Homo sapiens: one gene and its partner. The protein of the gene in region 1 interacts with the protein of each later gene in a pairwise test. Each region holds a gene or a part of one and is shown in the gene's direction. Other genes may lie near its edges. The genes, in order: EPC1 and HOPX.

Region 1 (3,828 bases):
CAAATATCTGTTTAGAATTTTTCACTTCACATCCAACCAAAGCTATGTATGAGGAGAGAAGCATAGACCTCAAGAATAGACACTGAACCTAATGGAAGAATGTAAAAAGTACCTGGTAAACAAGCTGCTTTACAGTCCTGTGGTTCATGCTGTTAGTGGTAGGGTGTGTAAATCATAATATTGAAAGTAGTGTGTTATGCAGTGTTGAAAAGGTATATTAAACATAAAGGTAATTGAATTCTGGATTCTCCATAGAAAAACAAACTTTTTGATGTGCGGAAGTATTTTGTACTTCTAATAAAGAGGAAGGGTTAAAGCAAACTTCTGCCTTTAACTGACACATTAGTTATTTGTTATCTTATTAGGTCACTGTAACCTAGAACCTGAACTGACTGTCTTAGAAAAAAAAGTATGTAGTCCTATGTTGGTCCTGAAAGGTGAGGGCAGTTTTTTTATACACCACCTGATTAAAGCATTTTATTGATCAAAATAATCTGCAGAATTGTCATGTGAAATACACCTAGTAATTGTTACGTTGTTTCTGGATATACTTGACAGAAATCCAGGTCTTTTAACATTGGGAAAATAAGTATTATTCGTGTATTCCCATTTAACCAGTTTTAATACTATGAGCTGCACACACGGGCCTAACGAGGCAGACTTTTTAAGAAACAACTTTAAGTAGAAGCCCTTACACCCCCCCCCCAAAATAATTTGGAGGCAGAAAATGTTACTGAACTTATCTATTTTTTTAATTGTAGTAGTACTGAAAAAGTAACTTCAGATTGTGGTAAATTGAAGGATTTGACTGGGTCAAAGATGTTAGAGATTAAATGTGAATTCGCAGAATGTAATGCATCGAAATTTGCTAAGTCTGAAAGTAACAGATTGGCAGGATGCGGTGGCTCACGCCTGTAATCCCAGCACTTTGGGAGGCCGAGGCGGGTGGATCACCTGAGGTCAGGAGTTCGAGACCAGCCTGGCCAACATGGTGAAACCCTGTCTCTACTAAAAATACAAAAATTAGCCAGCCGTGGTGGCAGCTGCCTGTAATCCCAGCTATTCGGGAGGCTGAGGCAGGAGAATCGCTTGAACCCGGGAGGTGGAAGTTGCAGAGAGCTGAGATCCCCCCACTGCACTCACAGCCTGTGCAAGAAGAGCGAAACTCGTTTCAGAAAAAATAATTTAATTAAAAATAAAGTAACGGATGATGAAAACAATGTATTTAATGAAGTACAGATGTGACTTAAATCACAGCGAAATAATAGACTTTCAGCTCTGAGATAATTGAGTCCCTTTGGGGTTTAAAAAAAGATAAAAGTTTAAACAAGTGCTTGGTTGGTGTGGGGCATATGTCCTATTATGAATATTTTACAATGTTAACTTTAAGATTATAATTTAATTATCTTTATAATCTTAAATCTTGTGCTACGGCTTCGCATTCTATTGAAAGGTTAAACTTACCAAATGGATTAATACTATCAAATCTTTTTATTAAAATTGACTCTTGATTAAAATTGGAGCTTTATGTTGTTAACAATTCTCCTTTATGGAAACATCACTTTTAAAAAGTCGATTTTAAAATGATGTTTAGCAAAATGGAGCTACTGTTCCACAGTAGTTTAACTTTTCATTGGGTTGTCTAGGGTGCGTTGTTCCATTTATGAGGGGGTGGCAACTTAACCTTTCCTCTCCTGTTACCTAGACTGGTTTGGGGAGGAGATTTGGTGTAATTAAGATGTTAATGATGTTTTCATATTGATACTACCCTACAGTCACCTTTGAAACTGTTACAAGTAGGATCTAACCACCATAATCCAGCACCTTGGTTCTATAGGATTCTAACAGGACAGGATGGTCTTTATACTCCCACCTTTTCTGTATTACTGGCACAATATACATTGTTACTAAGCCCAAGTTAAGAACTATTTATAAGAAGTGGATGGGAGTTGTTTGTTTTTAATTATGGGGAAATGGGAAATATGTACATATCCTTGATATGAGAAAAAAATGGTTACCCCATTTCCAAAACTTAGTAATAAAAACCTAGTTTAAATTTAAATCACTTTGAAAGAAACCAACAGTCTCTTTCTTTAACCTTTAATATTTTAAACCAATATTTTTAGTCCCTTTATCTGGAGCTGTAAAGATCAATCTAGATTTCTCCATTCTATCCACTCTCTTGGAAGTGAAGAGAAATACATGAAATCTCAATTATAGTAGAAGCAAAGTTTAACAAACTAATTACAGATAGTTTGAATTAGAAAAGAATTGAGAGTATGGGGATTTTTGCATTAGATTACAATTACTTCAGATAAAATCAAAGAGAATTAATAAAATGTTTCAGCTTTCTATACTGTCCAAAGGTATTTTTGCATAAAGTTGCTAAGCTAGGGTTCTGAGGATTATGTGGAAATAATTCTGGAAGTGATGGATTCCCACCATATGCCTATAAAATGTTAGAATATATTTTTCTAGGGAGAAGGTTCACACTTGTCATCAATTTCTCAAAGTATCGGTAATGGGCTGGGGCAGAAAGCCCAGGGGTTAAGATCAGCTGTTCCATAAATTTCAAACTGAGTCATTTTGGTTTTATCTCAGTTTGGCAGTTACTAAATAGACTTAGTCAAAGGAGGATAATTGAAAAAGGACAGGCAGTCCAGGAAGAGACTAAGGATTCTTGAATACAGAAGGGACCTTTTGAACACTTTACATGCCTATGCACCTGAAATGTTAGTATTAACTTTTGTTTCAGTATACCATTTGAATGTGTTTATGTATCTAATGGTATTTTGTGGGTGCTTTTCATGATCAGCAATGGCATTTGTACTGAATTACATTTTTTTCTGTTAATAGGACTTAATTAAAAGTACTGCCTACAGTGTAGCTTAAATTTTGTAAACGAGAGAAAAAATTCTGCATAAAGGTTCATGAATGTGTGGGCAGGATTAAATATACCAACCAATCCTGTTAAAAATGGCTGGGTTTTAGTTTTATATTTTGCATTCTACTGTGTCATGGTATGTACTGGTAGTAATGGTAGAAACATAGAATCTATACACACACACAGACACACACACACAGACATGTGTCCATGTTTTAAAGCACTTAGTAATGGCAAGAGTCCTTTTTATGTATGTAAAGATGTGATTTCTGATTACATTTATTACTCAATTTTCTTGAAAAGTTAAGGATGCTTAATTGTTAACAGCAGTTAGTTAAAAGCAGAAGATAGCATTTTAAGGGAGCAATAATACCATGGAATTGTATCATTTGTGATTGTACTTCTTAGAAGAAGAGATGCACAAGGAAATGAGAATTTTATATTGTAATTCAGGAATAAAAAGAATTGAGCGTGTCTAAGGGCAAAAGTGATATGAAAGTATGACATACTTTCAGAGACAACTAGAGTATGTATTTACTTTTAAAGTAGACTTTTGGAACACTGAAGTGTGACTTGCATTGATAACAATAACTTTTTGGTAAGAATAAACCAAATTCTGAGAAATCAATGAGAAGACAAGGGATTCAAATGTTTTAAACAACTTGCTAGAATTGCGGGTTTTTTTTTGAGTCAAAGTCTTGCTCTGTCACCCAGGCTGGAGAGCAGTGACACGATCATAGCTCACTGCAGCTGCAGCCTCAACCTCCCTAGCTCAAGCAGTCCTCTCACCTCAGCCTTACAAGTAGCTGAGACTACAGGTACACACCACCACGCCTAATTTTTTCTATTTTTATTTTTAAATATTCACCATGTTGCCTGGGCTGTTCTCAAACTCTTGGGCTCAAGTGATCCACCCACCTTGGTCTCCCAAAGTGCTGAGATTA
Region 2 (3,828 bases), on another chromosome or scaffold:
GAGCCTCATCTCTACATTTTTTTTTTTTTTTTTTTTAGTTAGCCAGACATAGTGGCACACACTTGTAGTTTTAGCTACTTGGGAGACTGAGGCGGGAAGGTTGCTTGAGCCCAGAAGTTCGAGGCTGCAGTGAGCTATGATCACGATGCCACTGTACTCCAGTCTGGGCAACATAGCAAGACCCCATCTCTAAAACAAACAAATAAATAAAAAGTAGAGAAGTTAATTTTACCCATCTCCACATAATTTCTTGTAATTTGCTTCTGGTAGTTTTGATAAAATGTGACCAAACATGAAAACAGTGCCAGACCTTTCACAAATGATCTACTCTGTCCTTGTATGTTCAGAAAGAAATGAAACAAAAACCTGAGGCAGACATTGATCAGTTCTAATCTCTTAGTGTATACTGGGCAGGAAACCAGTGGCAGTCATTTTGGCTGTTAGGTCTAGTCATTCCATCTAGGATCATGAGGAAAATTTCCTAGGATTCTTAAGGTCATGACAGATCTGCTTAGATAGTCTAGTCGTTGTTGATGTATTTTCACTTCTTCCTTGTGGCTTCTCCCTAAGGAAATGTACATAAACAATCTTCCTTAGCCCTGATATCTCCATCAACCCTTTCCAGATTTTCAGTTTGCTGGTGCCAGGAGTGAAATCTGTTTTACAAAAAACTTTAATTCAGTGGCTAATATTTAATTTAATAACTAATGTTGGAAGTATCTATCACTTTATTGTATATGCCTTACCCTCTTCCTGGGACATAGACTAGCATCTTTGGAGATGGCTGGAACTGGGATTTATGAAGCAGGAGGGAAGAAAGCAGGAGGCCACCCCTACTTTCATTAATACACTGTACCTGGCTCAGGGTTCCACAGCTGAAAAGGGAGGAGAGTCCTTGGAACTAACTCAAGAGTTAAACAATAGTTGACTAAACAATAGTAAAATTAGGGCTGGGTGCAGTGGCTCATGCCTGTAATCCCAGCACTTTGGGAGGATGAGGTGGCCGGATCACCTGAGGTCAGGAGTTCAAGACCAGCCTGGCCAACATGGTGAAACCCCGTCTCTACTAAAAATCCAAAAATTAGATGGGCATGTTGGTGCATGCCTGTAATCCCAGCTACTCAGGAGGCTGAGGCAGGAAAATCGCTTGAACCCGGGAGGCGAAGGCTGCAGGGAGCCAAGATCACAGCACTGCACTCCAGTCTGGGTGACAGAGCGAGACTACACACACACACTCAAATCAGATCTATAAGGAACACAGAAAGGCCTGATGTTATTTAGCTTGGACAAGAGAAGGCTATAAAGCCACTGAATGATGGTGTTGAAAAGCATGGAAGGATGTCGTGGAGGTCAATAACCAGCTCTTCATCTTGGCTTTTGAGGAAAAAATCCAAGACCAAGGATTGGTGGGGCTGCAGTATAAAGGACATTAAGTAAGCCATGAAGTACTCCCCTCATTATACAAAAAATATAGTGGAAAGAATTAATTACACAGACAAGCTCTGAAAGATGGGGCAGTCCACCAATCTTTTATTTTTTAAAGCCCTTTTTTTTGTTTGTCTTTAGGCGTATGATGAGTTAACATAGTCCTTAATTCATGGCATACACAAGACCCCCTCTTAGGTTTTATATCTCATTCCATTTCTCCTGCTCTCCCACTCTCCCTCTTTTCTCTCTTTCTTTTCACTGAACACTATAATTTTAAGATGTATCTATGTTGTTGATGATATTTCTAATGCATTATTATCAATAGTCTGTTAATTATATGTATCTTTTACTTATTGACTCCTGCAGTAATGGACATCTTTCTTGCCTCCAATTCTCTGAAATGATGCTGTAATGAATATTCTCATATGTTTGTTCTACCACCCTTTAGATCTGGTTCATGGGAAACAGAAAGGGAAAGGAGTGGGCTAGAGGTTTTATGTTTTATTCACACAGCATGGAATATTGAACTGTCCATGATAAATGGAGGCATAATGTAACCAGTTAGTATTTCAAACATTTACAAGCTTCTCCATGTTCCCTTGTACTTTAATAAGAGATTGAGTGACAAATAATTTTCTAGAACTAAAAGAGCACAATCTTCAGTGATCTCCCCTTCTCAATATAATTTTCTTTTCTTTTTTTTATTAAAAAAATTTTTTTTAGCCAGTCAGGCTGGGTGCGGTGGCTCACACCTGTAATCCCAGCACTTTGGGAGGCTGAGGCAGGCAGACAACCCGAGCTCAGGAGTTCGAGACCAGCCTGGCCAACATGGCAAAAACTTGTCTCTACTAAAAATACAAAAATAGACAGGTGAGACTCCATCTCAAGTAATAATAATAATAATTTTTTAGCCAATCAAATTTAGCAGTGGGTGGTTGCATTCAATGTCATCTTCTTTTCTTTCTTTCTTTTCTTTTTTTTTTTTTAAGACAAAGTTTTGCTCTGTCGCCCAGGCTGGAGTACAGTGGCATCATCTCGGCTCACTGCAACCTCCACTTCTCGGGTTCAAGCGATTCTTGTCCCTCAGCATCCAGAGCAGCTGGGATTACAGGCGTGTGCCACCATGCCTGGCTAATTTTTGTATTTTTAGTAGAGGCGGGGTTTCTCCATGTTGCCTAGGCTGGTCTGGAACTCCTGGCTTCAAGTGATCCTCCCACCTCAGCCTCCCAAAGTGCTGGGATTACAGGCATGAACCACTGTACCCAGCCAAATGTCATTTTCTTAAACTTGGCTTTATAAATTCTAGAAGCATTTTATTTCTCGATATTGGTTACTGATTACCCAGAAAAAGCAAATGAAATGTTCTAAGAAATCTTATTAGTCATGAGGTTGAGTGAAGTTTCTAAAATGTTTTGCCATTTTAATGATTGCAAAACCTGATGTCATTTTGTTGCCCAATTATATCCTGAGTCACTGGGAAAGCTAGATTAGAACCTTAATAATGGTACCTTGTATTTATGTAGTGTTGATAATTTATAGTGCCATTCATAAACATAATCCATCTCATGGAATCCTACAACATTGTGTGACAGGTGGGGCAGGTTAATAGCTTCAATAGTAGATGATGAAATGGACGTCTAAAGCAATTAAGACAGTTGTCCAAAGTTACCTGGAGACTATGTGATAGAGCTGGAAGGAGACTCCGGGTCTTCTGAAGCTTCACTCAATCTCTTTCTGCAGTATCACGGCTGATGCTCAGAAAAGTGATCTATTGTAGGTTCAAAGCTGTCCCCTGAGCTGGACATTCTGGTGTATCTGTCCTTTTCAATTATTTCGTGATGTTAATGAGCTGGCTAAAGCTGCACACCCTCTGTTTGTCCTATTAGCTGAACACCTGCTCATAAAAACCACTCAACTGGGGAAAAAAATCAGGTCCATATCACTGAGTAGCATGGCAACAAGCAGCATGGGTGGTTGGACTTTGGCATAATTTGGAGCTCTGCAAGGTACCAGCTGTGGGTCATTTTATCCATGACCTAATTATAGTCATAAAATAAGAATGGTAGTTGGACCATAAAAATAATAATCTATTAATATATATTTATGCAAAGAGATAATTCCATTCTGTCAAAGACTCTTTTCTGGACTTTTCAAAATACACAACTAACCTGAGGAAGTTCTGTCTGCTTGCAGTAGACAGTCTAATGGCCTAAGGAAAGGCATGTGATTGGGCAGCCTGAAAATCTACCCATGGTGCATGTGCAACACCACACAGGTCTCTGATGTATCTTACTATGTAATTTGAGCTCAGGCAAAAATACCGTAGAACCCAGCATATATTTTCAAAAAAACCAATCATGATGTCACATCCCCAGAATTACAAATGAACAGCTCTTTTCA

What was found.
Region 2: the proteins of EPC1 (region 1) and HOPX interact in a two-hybrid assay, tested with the Homo sapiens proteins (one study listed by BioGRID).

The regions. Positions count from the first base shown.
Region 1 is NC_000010.11:32,340,573-32,344,400, reverse strand, and holds part of EPC1 (enhancer of polycomb homolog 1), read left to right. Parts: intron 1-3,828. UniProt on the Homo sapiens protein: Component of the NuA4 histone acetyltransferase (HAT) complex, a multiprotein complex involved in transcriptional activation of select genes principally by acetylation of nucleosomal histones H4 and H2A.
Region 2 is NC_000004.12:56,671,125-56,674,952, reverse strand, and holds part of HOPX (homeodomain-only protein), read left to right. Parts: intron 1-3,828. UniProt on the Homo sapiens protein: Atypical homeodomain protein which does not bind DNA and is required to modulate cardiac growth and development. Acts via its interaction with SRF, thereby modulating the expression of SRF-dependent cardiac-specific genes and cardiac development.